Linked DNA regions of Homo sapiens: region 1 is linked to region 2. Evidence: fine-mapped expression QTL. Tissue or cell type: monocytes after R848. Region 2 holds a variant in brackets; the other region holds the start of a gene. All regions are shown on one strand. Distances are between the middles of the regions.

Evidence for each region. PIP is the estimated chance that this variant, and not a neighbour inherited with it, causes the effect.
Region 1: ZSWIM5 starts here. The variant in region 2 is fine-mapped to the expression of ZSWIM5 in monocytes after R848 (Quach 2016, PIP 0.95).

What each region holds. Positions count from the first base shown.
Region 1 is chr1:45,202,898-45,211,000 of GRCh38, forward strand. It overlaps ZSWIM5 (zinc finger SWIM-type containing 5), which reads right to left and starts at 3,708. Exons shown (of 14, transcript NM_020883.2): 1 at 2,859-3,708. The coding sequence starts at 3,453. RefSeq lists silencers at 986-1,186, 3,155-3,314, 3,515-3,934 and enhancers at 2,286-3,186, 3,187-4,086.
Region 2 is chr1:45,353,307-45,361,409 of GRCh38, forward strand. It overlaps TESK2 (testis associated actin remodelling kinase 2), which reads right to left. Exons shown (of 11, transcript NM_007170.3): 5 at 1,997-2,143. It also overlaps the pseudogene LOC124904849. Among named protein-coding and RNA genes, the nearest start is that of TOE1, 17 kb to the left of the region's middle. RefSeq lists enhancers at 6,589-6,688, 6,949-7,028, 7,159-7,658. The variant T/TA (reference allele first, on the strand shown) is at 4,700.

The DNA of each region.
Region 1 (8,103 bases), 150 kb before region 2:
CTCCTGAATAAGTATTTTCCCAAAGTTTATACTACTACTATATCCATGGGCTTCTGAAACAAGTTAAAAATGCAGATGCTGAAAACATTCATATGTTTTCAATAGAGTTCATACTCTAACCTTTACAATACTGAGATCAGACTGTAAGTCTATTGACATAGCTTTAAACTTACAGACATCCCTGAAGAGACTAATTTGCAATTTTCCCCTTTTAAAAGGAATACTACTTCTGATGCAGTACTTACATAAAAGAAATGTATCCTTTGAGCATAGCTGGAAAAGTTTTAGTTTTGATTTAAAATCTGAAGTATCCAATTTTTAACCAGAATTCATGACTTCCCATTACCAGATTTTGTGTGGAAAGTAATTAGAAATTACAGAATTTAATCTACCTACTCTTTCCACAAGTTTTTGTTTGTTTTTAATTTATTTGCCTTGAAGGCTTTTTTGTTTGTGCTTTCTTTTTTCATTTAAATTCCCTTTTTCATTAAATTCCCTTATGACTCTTTTTCTTAAAAAGATGTTGTCACAGAAATACCCCAACTTTCTGTTCTTCCTAAAGCATCGGCCTTCAGTAACTTCCCAAATCTGAGGTTCTATCGTTTAGAAACAGTAAGGAAATATGTAGAATTCTTAATTAGCATCACTTAGTAATTAATTGAGTTTGAAGTGCAGTTATAAACTGAAAAACACGATTACTATCTTGGTATATACGAATCACTTCCTTACTCATCTCTTGGCAATACTTTTAGAAAGCCTACTCTCTAGATTAAGTCATTTACTTATAACTTTAAGTTTAGGAGATGGGGGATGAGTCTCTATTAAAGGTGGTTCATACCAAAATACAGAACTCAAAAAGATGCAGAACAGGCTATCCTTCTCTCCTATACTTATTAACCTAAATTAAGGTCAGAATAATAAAAATTACACAGCTCGTGGTTCTCAAGTAGCATAAACTTAAAGTGATAAATTTATTCACCGGTCTTCGTCTTTGAAATCCAAAGTCAATCAGAAAACATGTTTGTTTATATGTGTCTTTTCTCAAGTCAATCAGAAAACATGTTTGTTTATATGTGTCTTCTGAAACTACCATAAGAGAGCCTATAACTCCAGAACCACATTAACTTTCATATTATAAAGGGGAAATATCTGATTTAAACATGATCTAGATTACCCAAAATATCCTATTTCATTTGGAAAGTGACACTTTAGTTACTTTAAAAATAGACACCTCTTTAAAACTCTTCCTCTCTTTTATTTGTTCCCTCAAGTTTGAAAATTCTTCCTCATCCATCTCTTACTATAAAATGACCACTTAAATTGATCCTTTTCCATTTAAAATATTTGAAACAAGAATCTTAAAAGTTAAATAAATGATCGAAACTCAGAAAAATTAAAATTTACAGACTAATAGGAAAATGATTGTATTTATTTTCATGTTTTCAGTGTTTCAGTATTAAAGCTGTACACCTTAATTACATATTTATTCAAGTCACTCTTTCAAAAATATACACAAATAAAGGACTAACCTCTTTCAAATAAACAAAACTTGCTCAAGCCACTGTCACTATATTCTGGCACAGGATAAATTTACATTTCACATTTGCAAAACAAGTTGTGGTATGCTGTTGTTTTGGTTAGAAACACAGGAATCAATGATTCTCAATAACCAGAAGCAGATTACTTTATATGAAACAGCACGATTCAAAGAAAAACATTTTTCAAATGTTTTCTCCAGGTTTTACCTGGAGAGCTAGATGTCTGGGGTTTGTGTCTTTCTGTGCTTGTTTAATTCTAAAAACAACCTCCCTTCAACTCCTTTCAAAAATCAGTATTTTCTTCAATTAATACGAGCATATAGTGTACAATAAAACGCATAAAGATATGTACTTCCAGAATGCCATAATAATCCAAATAGAAAAAAATTCGTGTTTTAATTTTCCACATAGCAAAGTCAATGTTAATCATTTTTTTATCCTTCTCCTTAACCATTCCACAAATCAGAAGCACTGTATTTATATATTTAATAAGATTAACAAACTGACTAGAAGCTCCGGAGGAGTAAAGGAAGAAATCATTTGTATAATATATTTTTCCATAACAAAAAGATAAAAGCAAATAGGACTTGTTAAATGAGAAGCTTTTGAAAAACCCAGCGTGACCAGCTTTTGATTTACCCCAGTCTGACAAGGAAGAGAGACCCCACCCCCACTCCAGATTGTATGGCTTTTTTTTTTTTTTTCCTTGGGTGGGGGTGTGGAGGAGAAGCTGTCACATTTCCATCTTCGGTTATTGTTAGTCCGCAGCCTAGATTCCCAAGCATCACCGGTCCAGGGGAAAAATCCTAACGCAGACAATTAAAACTGTCTGAAACATGCAGTATTTTGTTGGGGCTTTTTTCCCAGTGTTAATTTCATCGAGACTCAATCGGCTAGGGCTATAGATTGCCTCTGACAGTCTGTCCCTCAAACGCTCCCTCTAAAACCGCTTGTTCCAGATTTACTAACAATCCTCTCCTCTCCAAACTTAAATTAGGACAACACATTTCTGAAATTATTACATCCAAAAAGTCATACCTCCCCATTCTCTTTGCCTTGGTGTGGGGAATAGAAAGAGTGAAGAAGAGAGATCTATTCACTCTTCAAACAAAAAGAAATTGGGGTAGAGGGTCAGTGGAGGAAAGAGCAGTGGTGGACCTGAGTGAAAGGTTGAAAAAAGTTTTTGTGACTTGTTCGTCCTTCGGCAGGGGTACAGGAGTTGGGCAGAAGGCCGGGGTCTCGGCCCCAGGGCTCGGGCCGAGAAGAGGCACCCGCGGAAGAGGAGGCTGAGGACCCGAGAACGCCTGGACGAGCACATACCGACTTGCAGCACGTTCTCCACGGAGCCGCTGTCCAGCAGACGGATGCCCCGGCGGAACGGGAGCCCCTCGCCACCGCAGCCGGCCGCGCCGGCCCCTGCGCCCAGCCCGGGGGATGCCCCAGCCGCGACGCCCCCGGGGGCGGAGCCGGCCGGAGCGGCGGCCCCGGGGGGTGGCTGCGGCCCCTCCTCGGCCGGCGAAGCCCCCGCGGCGCCGCCAGCAGCGCCGGCGCCGGGGCCGCCCCGGTACTGGAAGCTGGAGTACATGCAGATCTCCCGCTCATTCCGCGGGAAGGACCAGTAGACGATGCGGCGCTGCACGGGCTCCGGGATCCGCTCGAAGCGCTCCTCCACCCGTTCGTATGCCCACTTTTCCGCCACCGTCTTGGCGGCGCAGTCCAGTAAGGAATCCGGCTGCAGGTGGGGGCGGGCCCCGAGGACCAGGCAGCTGCTGCCGACGCCCCCTGCCCCTCCGCCGGCTGCCCCAGGCGAACCGCGAGGGTGATGAGCCTGCGGGCTGGGCCACGAACACTGCCGCTTAGCCGGAGAGACCGGTGACGGCGAGAGCAGCTCCTCTCGCTCACCTCCGTCCGCCATTGCTGGGGACTGACTGACTGACTGAGGCGGCGGCGGCTGCTCGGGCTGCGGCGGAGACCCTGGCCACGGCCACGCGCCCCGCGCAAGCGCCCAGCGGTGGCGCCGAGGGGGGCGGGGCGAGAGAACCCGCGAGCCAGCCGGCCCGAGTGGGGAACCGCGGCCGGGCCCGGGAGCGCGCCGCGAGGGCAGACGCGGGCGGCCTGCAGGGTAGCGTGAGGCGGCGCGCGGTGTCCTGGCCGCCGCGGACGCGAAGACAGGCGGGAGCGAGCGCGGGCCCGCGGCGCGCTCCAGGCGCAAACAGCCTAGAACGCGAGCCGAGCGCTCTCGCGGATCCGGCGACCGCGGAGGGGAGAGGAGCGCCGGACGCTCTCGCACGCCCGCCCGCCCGCCCGCGCACCTCCAACCCACCTGCCGCCGGCCAGACAGGAATGGACTGTGTGACTGAATGAAATGGCGGGGCCATAAGCCATCCAAGGAGCCGCCTCCGTGAAGTTATAGGCTCGCGGGGTACAAGGAGAAAAAAACAATCCAGCTCCAACGGTACTGATGTGACAGGAGGTTGTCACAGCAGAGCGGAAGATCTGGCAGAAAGACGCTGGGAAAGAAGACACTAGGGGAAAACATCAGAAAGTTCGGATGATGAAAACTCACCTCACGCCACAACAATGTAGGATAAAGCCGGCGGTCACCCCACCCCAGAGTGGGACAAAGTCGCACCACCCCTTGACAATGGGGCATCAAGATCTTATCGCCACGGGGGTTGCATCCTGGTGGGGTCTTTTGGAGGGTTTAGCACCTTGCATCCTAGAATACAAAACACTTTTGCGTGTTTTTTGGTAGAATTCTCTGATCCCCTACCTCCAATCTGAATTAGGTCTTTCATGTTTTCCTCACTTGGCTCAGTCTTCTACACCTTTACATAGTTGTATTTTTATATATTTGTTTAATGTCTGACTGTCAACTCCATGAGAGTGAGAATCATGTCTATTTCCTTCACTATAATTTATCCTCTGCCTGGCACATAGTGGGTGCTCAAGAATGGCAGCTTCATCACTAACTCCATAAACAACACGCAATTGTAAGTTACTGTTTCTTGCTCGATCAAGAAAGCTCAGATTATTTCAGAATTTGCTGACAAACTAATCTCTACAACTTTAAAACGTTCCAAGAACTGTATTAAAAGAGTTTCTATAGTTGAGTTTGCCCTTCAAAGTAAGAGAGATTTAGAGTGTAGGATAAAATAAGAGTAAGAAGAGAGTAAATGATTGGAGACAGGCTGGAGCCACAGTTTGGTTTTGCTGTAATCTCAGAATTAAAGAGCACAGGCAGAATTGGGTGTGAATCACACTTGCTGTGTGTGATGCTATTCATGATTCTATTAAATCATTTGCAAAAGGGAGCTAGTAATAATGCTTCTACACATAAATGTTGTAAGAATTAGAAATAATTCACTTTAAAAAAAGTTTTTTTAGAGACAGGATCTCACTCTGATGTCCAGCCCGGAGTGCAGTGGGGTGATCACTGCAACCTCAAACTCTTGGACTCAAACTATCCTTCCATCTCAGCCTCCAGAATAACTAGGACAACAGATGCACAGCACCACACCCAGCTAATTCTAAATTTTTGTAGAGGGGCGGTCTCCCTATGTTGCCCAGGCTGGCTGGAATTAGAAGTAATTCAAATTGTTTGCTTATTCAGTGTAGTAGGTACTCAATAAGTATCTGTTTAGGCCAGATGCAGTGGCGCATGCCTGTAATCCCAAGGCTTTGGGAGGCCAAAGTGGAGGATCCCTTGAGGCCAGGAGTTCTAGACCAGCCTGGGCAACAGAGCAGACTGGAGACCCCATCTCTACACAAGAAATAAAAAATAGCAGGGATTAGTGGCCTACACCCTGTAGTCCTAGCTACCCTGAAGGCTGATGTAGGAGGATTGATTGAGCCCAGGAGTTCAAGGTTACAGTAAGCTATGATCATGCCACTGCACTCTAGCCCAGGCAACAGAGCAAGACCCTCTCTAAAAAAACAAAAAAAGAAAGAAAAAGAAATCTGTTTATATTGGTAAATGGATTTATATCTGTAAATAACTATAAATAGATTACTGCAAAATAGCATAATCCCTACTCCACCTTGAATCTGGTACCACATTTACAGGCTTCCATAACACACACTATTTTCTTTCCTATAATTTATCAGAGTTTTTTGGGAGAACGAATATTCCTTTAATGCCTGTCCCCCTAACTAGACTATGAGCTGTGGAAGGGCAGGAACCATTTCCATGTAAGGGCCTATTTCTACCACCTGCCAAAATGCCTACACATAGAAGATGTTCAGAAAATATTTGCACTTTGAATCAATGAATATGTTATTCTGATTTAATCAGTTACTGTCTTTTTTTTTTTTTTTTTTTTTTTTGAGATGCAGTCTCACTCTGTCACACCCAGGTTGGAGTGCAGTGGCACAATCTTGGCTCACTGCAACTTCCGCCTCCTGGGTTCAAGTGATTCTCTTGCCTCAGCCTCCCAAGTAGCTGGGTCTACAGGCGTGTATGCCACCATGCCCAGCTAATTTTTGTATTTTTAGTAGAGATGGGGTTTTACCACATTGACCAGGCTGGTCTCAAACTCCGGCTTCAAGTGATCTGCCCGCTTCAGCCTCCCAAAGTGCTGGGATTACAAGTGTGAGCCATGGCGCCTAGCCTATATTTATGTGTTTATTTGCTTAATGTCTGTTTCCCAAAATAGACTATAAGCTCCATGTTAGGCGGGCGTGGTGGCTCACACCTGTAATTCCAACACTTTGGGAGGCTGAGGTGGGTGGATCACTTGAGGCCAGGAGTTCGAGACAAGCCTGGTCAACATGGTGAAACTCCACCTCTACCAAAAATACAAAAATTAGCTGGGCATGATGGTGGGCATCTGTAATCCCAGCTACTCGGGAGGCTGAGGCAGGAGAATTGCTTGAACCTAGGAGGCGGAGTTGCACTGAGCCGAGATTATACCACTGCCAGCCTGGGAGACAGAGTGAGACTGTGTCTCAAAAACATAAATAAAAAATAAAAAATAAGCACATAAATATATAAATACAGATGGTAATAACACAGCAAATAAGACATTTGGGAATATGCAATATGTGGTTGTGAATAACAAGAATGCTAGATTAATTGGACCATAAGTTTGTGGTGAGAAATAGTGGGAAAAGACTGCAAGAGAGACAGGAGACATTGTGAAAAGCTTTTAAAAGCATTGTAAAATGCTAACTTGAGGAATCTGCATTTTCTTAGGTTGGTGGAGGGAAGCTAATAAAGGTATTTTGAGCAGGACAGTTATATGATAAAAGGCAGTGTTTTAGGAATATTAACCAGACAGAAATATGTAGGATGAATCAGGAGAAAGATAAAGTCTGGAGGCAAAAGATGAGTTTGGAGATAAACCAACAGTGTGGGAAGGAGGTAATAAAGGCTTGTAGAAGGCATTGGACGAAAAGATATCTAGACATCGGGCAAAAAGGGGCTGAAATCTGGCCTGCACTCCATTTGCCCATCCCTGCACCAACCAGGTTGCATCTGGGTGCCTCTTTCTCATTCTCACCAAGTGACCATATGGGCTAGCAATGGCTCTGGGCCTGTGTTACCTCTCTCTGTTTGATCCCTCTTCTCTGATGAGAGAATTGACATATTTCAAGGAGACTGTGGGAGTCTAAAGATACTTATTTTACAGCATTGCAATCCCCAGGGTGAAAACACAAATACCAAAAATCAATAACCAGGAAGAATACCTCACATCTTAATACAACTCTTTTGATGTCAGGAAAATTTTGATCCAACCTTAGAAATAAATCTTTAAATTTGCATTTGTGAAACATCCTCAACCCCTTTGCATGGAATGAAATGATGAGATGAAGGTGAAGGATAGAGTGAGACTCAGAGATGAGGATTTAGGTATCATTTGACAAGCAAACTGTATGCAACCCAGTCATTTATTTAATAAAATTTATTTTGGCTTCTATTTCAAAATGTAGAAGATAGACACCTGTGCTTCCTGATAACACTTTGTTTGGGTATATCATAAACACTGAATGAAGTGGGAATGAGAAATATTTAGGAATTAGAAAGGAAGATCATGATTTTTTTTTTCTTTTTTTTCAGACAGTGTCTGGCTCTGTTATTCAGGCTGGAGTGCAGTGGTACAATCTTGGCTCACTAAAACCTCTGCTTCCTAGGCTCAAGCGATCCTACCACCTCAGCCTCCCAAGTAGCTGGAACCACAGGCATTCGCCACCACACTTGTAGAGACAAGGTCTTCCTATATTGCCCAGGCTGGTCTCAAACTCCTGGGCTCAAGCAGTCCTCCCATCTTGGCCTCCCAAAGTGCTGGGATTACAGATATGAGCTACCATGCCTGGCTAGAAGACCATGATTTGAATTGATTGGACCTATTACCCAACTCTGGTTTTTTTTTTTTTTTTTTTTTTGATACAGAGTTTCACTCTTGTTGCCCAGGCTGGAGTGCAGTGATGCAATCTCAGCTCACTGCAACCCCCACCCCTTGAGTTCAAGCAATTCTCCTGCCTCAGCCTCCTGAGTAGCTGGGATTACAGGTGCCCGCCACCATGCCTGGCTAATTTTTGTATTTTTAGTAGAGACAGGGTTTCA
Region 2 (8,103 bases):
TACAGACAGTAATGTAGATAAAGGGCTCCTTACAACTAGGCCTCTGCTGGTTCCCAGTTTCTACTTGCCAGTCTTGTGCTCCTTCAGGAACAGTGCAGCTGACTACAAATGACTCTGCCACACACCAAAACCATTCTATGTGAGGCATCCAGGTACTTACTGCTTTAGGCTTTATTGACTCAGTACTGCTGCTTTTGTTCCCTTTCAAGCTTTTTCTTAAGATGGGCTCCCTTCCCCTCCCCTTCATCTGGGGCAGAAGGAGTAGGAGTATGTGCATGCATATGTGAATATGTGTACATGTAGGTATTGAGGGTGGGGAATGAAGTGACAGCTATTCTTAGGCAGGTACAAAACTCTTATACACCTCCCTAGCAGACTTTAATTCAGTTCTTGGGCAGCAGTCATATTAGATATGTTAGATTGCCTTATAGTTCCCCCATTAATAATCAAACGGTACTATTTATATAAGCCTTGTCATGATGGTATCTTAGGCCATTTGGCTATGAGGTGTCTGTTTTGTGGCATGGCCAACTTCCTCTGAAAGCGACTCTTTTCTAACCTGGTCACACAGCAATTTGGACAGCAAGAGAGTGCTACAGAGATCAGCTGATGCCAAAGAGGAACTGGCAGGGCAGCAGAAACTCAATCACACAGGCAGAAAATGGGTCAGTACATATGGCCCTAAAAACCTGCATTCAAGTGACTAAAAATCACTGAACTCCTGCTCTTAGCTAAGAACTACATCCTGGGGCCACAGGAAAGAAAACTGATAGGCCCCTATACTGCCTTGACTGCTGTCATTCCTATAAGGCAAGAATTTCTTAACCCTTCTCATGTCATTTGCTCCTGTAACACATATTCAGGAGATTGAAGTTAAACATGAAGGCTCTCAAGATGTATGAGTTGGCTGGGCACAGTGCATGCCTGTAATCCCAGCACCTTAGGAGGCTGAGGTGGGTGACTGCTTGAGCTCACAAGTTTGAGACCAGTCTGGGTAACATGGCAAGACCCCATCTCTGTTAAAAATACAAAAGAAAGGCTGGGTATGGTGGCTCATGCCTGTAATCCCAACACTTTGGGAGGCCAAGGCACGTGGATCACCTGAGGTCAGGAGTTTGAGACCAGCCTGCCAACATGGTGAAACCCCATCTCTACTAAAAATACAAAAAATTAGCGAGGGGTGATGGCAGGCGTCTGTAATCCCAGCTACTCAGGAGGCTGAGGCAGGATAATTGCTTGAACCCAGGAGGTGGAGGTTGCAGTGAGCCAAGATCACTCCATTGAACTCCAGCCTGGGCAATAAGAGTGGAAAAAAACAAAACAAGACCAAAATACAGCCAGGCATGGTGGTGTACGCCTGTGGTCCCAGCTATTCGGGAGGCTGAGGTAGGAGGATTGCTTGAGCCGATGGAGTGGAGGCTGCAGTGAGCCGAGACCATGCCACTGTACTCCAGCCTGAGTGACAAGGTGAGACCGTCTCAAAAAAAAAAAAAAAAAAAAAAAAAAAAAATATATATATATATATATATATATATATATATATGTTGGCTCACTCAGCACTGAAAGGAACCTGCTATAAGAAAATATAGGCTTATGGTGGGGCACAGTGACTCACGCCTGTAATCCCAGCACTTTGGGAGGCCAAGGCGGGTGGATTGTTTGCAGCCAGGAGTTCAAGACCAGCCTGGCCAATATGGCAAAATTCTGCCTCTACTAAAAATTAGCTGAGTGTGGTAATATACACTTCTAGTCCCAGCTACTCAGGAGACTGAGGCACGAGAGTCGTTGAACCCAGGAGGCAGAAGCACTCCAGCCTGGGCAACAGAGTGAGACACTGCCTCAAAAACAGAAGGAAAAGATGTAGGCTTTCTAAGGACTAACTATAAAATATAATGAATTATGTCCTCTGTGATTAAATGTTAAATCTAACACAGCTTTCTTGGCAAAAGAGAAGGGTGGTATCTCTCAATGAGTTGTGAGAGTAAAGCCTTCATACCTTAGATGTGAGGTCCCGATGAAAAATGCCTTTGAAGTGAAGGTAGCTGAGGCCCACTGCTATGTCATAGGCCAGTTTTACCCTCACAGTCCAAGGCAAATGCAGGTTACTGTCTAGCAACTGTTCCAGGTTCCCGGAGTTGATATACTGCAAAACAGAAGGAAAACCCAGCTACCATTTATCAGAAATATTTAGGCTAGTGGTGAAACCATTAGAGAGTAAACACCTGGAAGAGAGAGACTGTATTTTTTTTTTAAGTTACTGAGGGCTTATTCTGCCTCCAAGCACTATGGTAGGTGCTGCACACAATGACACTTTCCTTTAAGGAGATCACAATCTATTAAGGGACATAGTCAAACAATATCATATAATAAATATTAAAATATAGTTATGTGCAGGTAGGACAACACCATGCAGCAACAAGGATAAAGCTAAACTGTGGAGGCATGTCAGAGGAAATGCAGAGAGGAAATAAGGAGTCAGAAAGGATGACCTGGAGTAGCAGGAAAGTAGCACGAAAGACACAGAGGGAGCAGCATATGCAAAGTTACAGGTTAAGTGCATGATGCATTCAGGAACTTAATTTACTTCGATATGGCCAGAGTGCATTTATAGATGAGTCAGGAAGTGAGGCTGACATGTTTTGCTAAGATATGTGAACTTTATCCTGTCTATAGGAAACAAAAGAAGCATTTTAAGCAGGAGAGCCACATGGTTATATTTGCTTTTTAAAGAAAATATTATTTTAGCCATGGTATGATAGATGGATTAGAGTGAAAAATACAGAGAAAGGGAAATAGGAGATTACTGCAATAATCCTGGTGAGAGCAGGGCATCTGAATCATGGCAATAGTGGAGGCATTGGAACAAGGCAAGATTCAAAATGTATTTAGATGGCAGAATTAAAAAAAAAAAACTTGATAATTGCCTGGATTAGAGAATGAGAGCAATAGGCTATTGGTCCCTGGATGTCATTTTTAAATACCCAGAGAGCAAGGAGAGGAGTAGGTTTTTAGAAGAAGAGGCAATGTTAAAAGAGAGTGAGTTCAGGCCAGGTGTGGTGACTCATGCCTGTAATCCTAGAACTTTGAGAGGTAGAGGATCGCTTGAGCTCAGGAGTTCAGACCGGCCTGAACAGCATAGTGAGAGACTTAGTCTCTACAAAAATAAACAGAATTAGCTGGACGTGATGGTGCACACATGTAGTCCTAGCTACATGGGAAGATCGCCTGAGCCTGGGAGGTTGAGGCTGCAGTGAGCTAAGATCATGCCAATGCACTCCAGCCTGGGTGATAGACAGAGCGAGACCCTGTCTTAAAAAAAAAAAAAAAAAAGATAGTGAGTTCAGCTGGGAGAAGTTAAATTATTAAAGGTACAGGTGCTTATTGGACAACCAAGGTGGAAATGATCTAAATAGAGTCAGTTTGAAGCTTAAGAACAAAGTCTAAGTGAAAGACAATATTTAGGAGGCAAAAACATTGAGCTGAAGCAGTCATGCATTCCAAGGTCATGCATGCCCAGGGTTTAACATGTAAGATGGGAAATCAACAGAATCCCAAGGAACAGGCAAGAATGTCAATAGGAGAACATTCTAAATGTTCAGAAGGACGGCCGGGCGCAATGGCTCATGCCTGTAATCCTAGCACTTTGGGAGGCCGAGGCGGGTGGATCACCTGACATCAGGAGTTCAAGACCAGCCTGGCCAAGATGGTGAAACTCTGTCTCTGTTAAAAATACAAAAAAATTAGCTGAGCATGGTAGCAGGCGTCTGTAATCCCAGCTACTCAAGAGGCTAAGGCAGGAGAATCACTTGAACCCGGGAGGCAGAGGTAGTAGTGAGCTGAGATCGTGCCATTGCACTCCAGCCTGGGCAACAAGAGCTAAACTCCATCTCATAAATAAATAAATAAATAAATAAATAAATAAATAAATAAATAAATGTATGTATGTATGTATGTATGTTCAGAAGGACAATGACATTCTACATGTCAGAAGGAAAGCATTCTACAAAGGAAATGACTGACAGTATCAAAAGCCATGAATGAGGAAGACGAGCTTGAAAGGTATCCACTGAATTTGCAACCAGGAAATCATTGGCAACCTTGGACAGAGCAGTTTCAGTAAAGTGGTTAAGACGAGTAAGACTGAAGTGAACAGAGGAAAGAGTAGCAGATAAGGTTATGGAGAAACTATTTGAAGATAGTCTTGCTGTTCATCATTCCTAAATACCCATGAAGGGCAGCTTTGCTTTTTTAGTAAAAAAAAAAAAAAAGAAAAAAAAGTGAATAAGGCTGGGCACGGTAGGAGGCCAAGGTGGGAGGATCACTTGAGGTCAGGAGTTTGAGACCAGCCTGGGGAAAGTGGCAAAATCCCGTCCCTACAAAAAATACAAAAATTGGCCAGGCACGGTAGCTCCCAGGGGTGGGATCATAGTAGCTAACACCTGTAATCCCAGCACTTTGGGAGGCCAAGGCAGGTGGATTACCTGAGGTCGGGAGTTCGAGACCAGCCTGACCAACATGGAGAAACCCTGTCTCTACTAAAAATACAAAATTAGCCAGGCATGGTGGCGCATGCGTGTAATCCCAGTACTCGAGAGGATGAGGCAGGAGAATCGCTTGAACACGGGAGATGGAGGTTGCAGTAAGCCGAGATTGCACCATTGTACTCCAGCCTGGGCAAGTGACGGAGTGAAACTCCGTC[T/TA]AAAAAAAAAAAAAAAAAAAAAAAAAGCCTGGGCACAATGGCTCACACCTGTAATCCCAGCACTTTGGGAGGCCAAGGTGGGCAGATCACGAGGTCAGGAGATCGAGACCGTCCTAGCTAACATGCTGAATCCCCGTCTCTACTAAAAATACAAAAAATTAGCCGGGCGTGGTTGCAGGCGCCTGTAGTCCCAGCTACTCGGGAAGTTGAGGCAGGAGAATGGCATGAACCCAGGAGGCGGAGCTTGCAGTGAGCCGAGACTGTACCACTGCACTCCAGCCTGGGCAACAGAGCGAGACTCCATCTCAAAAAAAAAAAAAAATTAGCTGGGTGTGGTGGTGTGTGCCTATAGTCACAGCTACTCACAGGTTGAGGTTGGGATGATCACTTGAACCTCAGGAGGTCAAGGCTGTAGTGAGCCATGATTGTGCCACTAGATTCCAGCCTAGGCAACAGAGAGAGACCCAGTCTCAAAAAAAAGTGAGTAAGTATATGTATTTATAAATAATAATAGCAGCTGTTATTTATATAGTATCTAAATTGTTTCAGGCACTGTTCTGAGAGTTTTGCATATATTATCTCATTTAATCTGCACAATAACCCTATAAGGTAGGTACACTGGTACTTTTTTTCCTTTTTTTTTTCATGTCAGACAACGTGCAGACATTAATAAGGTTTGAGGGTAGTACACCTCACACATGCACATGAAAATCCAATCATCGTGCTATGGACTACAAAATGACTACATACTATTACTCATTTTAGAGAAGGCATTTAGAAATTAAGCAACTTGCTTAAAGTTATCCAGTTATTAAGTGGCAGAGACTGGCAGACTCTGCAGTCTGGCTCCAGAGTCCATACTCTTTACCACTACGTTGCACTGGAGACTTAGAGACCACAGCATCTGAGTAAGAGAGCCTCATGCAGCACAGGAGCTCAAAAATGAATTTACTCAAACCTTATATGATGTATTATCTCCCTCCTCCTCCCAAGGGAGAAAAAGAGGGAAATTCCTCTAAGCCTAAAATTTATATCTTAATACATATTTTTGGGTACCATTGCATTTACAAAGGACTAGGGAACTTAATGGGATAAGAGGAGAAATATCTGAATTCTAGCCCAATTCAGCCTCCTAATAGCCATTTAACTTGGACAAATCAACTAATAAGGCTATCCATCTTTCACTTTTCTCAACTATAAGTAGGTATGATAATCCCTGATTCACCTAATTTGCAGTGTTGTTATGAGAATCTAATAAAATATGTGAAAGTTGGCCAGGCGCCGTGGCTCACGCCTGTAATCTCAGCACTTTGGGAGGCCAAGGCGGGCAGATCACCTAAGGTCAGGAGTTCAAGACTAGCCTGGCCAACATAGTGAAACCCCATCTCTACTAAAAATACAAAAATTAGCCGGGCATGGTGGTGGGTGCCTGTAATCCCAGCTACTCGGGAGGCTGAGGCAGGAGAATCACTTGAACCCGGGAGGCGGAGGCTGCAGTGAAGTGAGATTGAGCCACTGCACTCCAGCCTAGGCAACAGAGTGAGACCCTGTCTTGAAAAAAAAATATGTAAAAGTTGGCCAGGCGAGATGGCTCACACCTGTATTCCTAGCACTTTGGGAGGCCAAGGCAGGTGGATCCCCTGAGGCTAGGAGTTCGAGACCAGTCTGGCCAACATGGTGAAACCCCATCTCTACTAAAGATACAAAAATAAGCAGGGCATGGTGGCAGACGACTGTGATCCCAGCTACTTGGGAGGCTGAGGCACGAGAATCACTTGAACCTTGGAGGCAGAGGTTGCGGTGGGCAGAGATCATATCACTGCACTCCAGCCTGGGCAACAGGGTGAGACTCTGTCTCAAAAAAATAATAATAAAATAAAATATGTGAAAGCGCTTCGAAAAAAATTTAAATGTCATATATTTTCTGATGTGGTAATAATATAAGCACCAAAAAGAACCAGTTGGGGGCAGCACCATGCAGCACTTCAGATCCTTGGAAGCGTCGGACCAGTTTTGGCAAGACAGAAAGAATGACTAAAAATAAATCTTCCAACTTCTCAAAAGGGAAACTTGTTGATCTGCTTCATCCTGCTTGATAATCCATCTTTGAAAATCTTAAAATAAGGCATAATGACGGCATAAGCACAGCGCCTTGCTCTCTTCATTCTAGTTGAATCTGCCCAAGATTCACATTTGAGGTGCCCATTTGCTGAAAAGAAACTGAGCTTGTGAACTTCAGGGTTATAAGTGGGCAGTGAAGCTGACATCTAATCATGCAGGCAGATTTCTTTAGCTCTGAAAGTCAAAAGGTAGGCAGTGGTTCACTTCTTTAGCATGATGACAGTGTGATATGTCGGGCCTGTCTTCAGGAGCCACTCAGGTTTCCCAACTGAGTGCCAGGCAGAAGACACTATAATGAAAAGACTGTATGTGCACTCTCTATAGGCCAGGTGACACCAGGACTCTTGGTTCTGGGAAACACTTGTTTACTCTGTTCAGCAGTGTCTCTGAAGGCCCTGGAAATCCATATGCAAAGCCAGAGGGTGGAGAGCACAGGAAAAGGTGACAAAAGATGAGGAATCACACTTGGCTAATAGATTCTGGCTTCTCCAGGCAAACTGGAAAAAGCGCAAACCAAGGACCAGAGAGGGAAAACAAATGGAATTTGCTTTTACAACCCATTTCTCTTGCCTGCCTTTGGTGAATACATTAGTTGGGCTGATAAGCCTGTAGGCCCTCAGAAACCGCTTCTCAATGTTTCAAGACCTCTGCATGCATAAGAAAAGGAAATTTGAGATTTGTCAACAAGGAAGATTTCTTTCTTTTTTTTGAGACGGAGTCTCACTCTGTCCCTCAGGCTGGAGTGCAGTGGCGCCATCTCGGCTCACTGCAACCTCCACCTCCCAGGTTCAAGTGATTCTCCAGCCTCAGCTTCCCGTGTAGCTGGGATTACAGGCTGTGTCACCACACCCAGCTAATTTTTGTATTTTTTAGTAGAGACAGGGTTTTCCCATGTTGGCCAGGCTTGTCTCGAACTCCTGACCTCAGGTGATCCACCCGCCTCAGCCTCCCAAAGTGCTAGGATTACAGGCGTGAGCTACCGCACCCAGCCAGAAGATTGCTACACGGTCTCTGTGCCCATTAGCTGGAATGTTCACTTCTCCATAAGCAACTCCCAGTGCAGACTCAGCTGGTGTGGCCTCTAAACAAATCCCTCTGCAGGAAGCAGAGACAAGAGCAACTGCATTAGCATGTTCAGCTTTCCCGGATGGGGATAACAGCTGCTTTGCTTTCATTTTCAGCTAGACTACTCCCTCGGTCAGCCCTATAAAATGACCCAAGGCATTGGTAATACATTTAATTAATACAGAAGTTTTAATATTTTTAATTGTTGTTATTTTAAC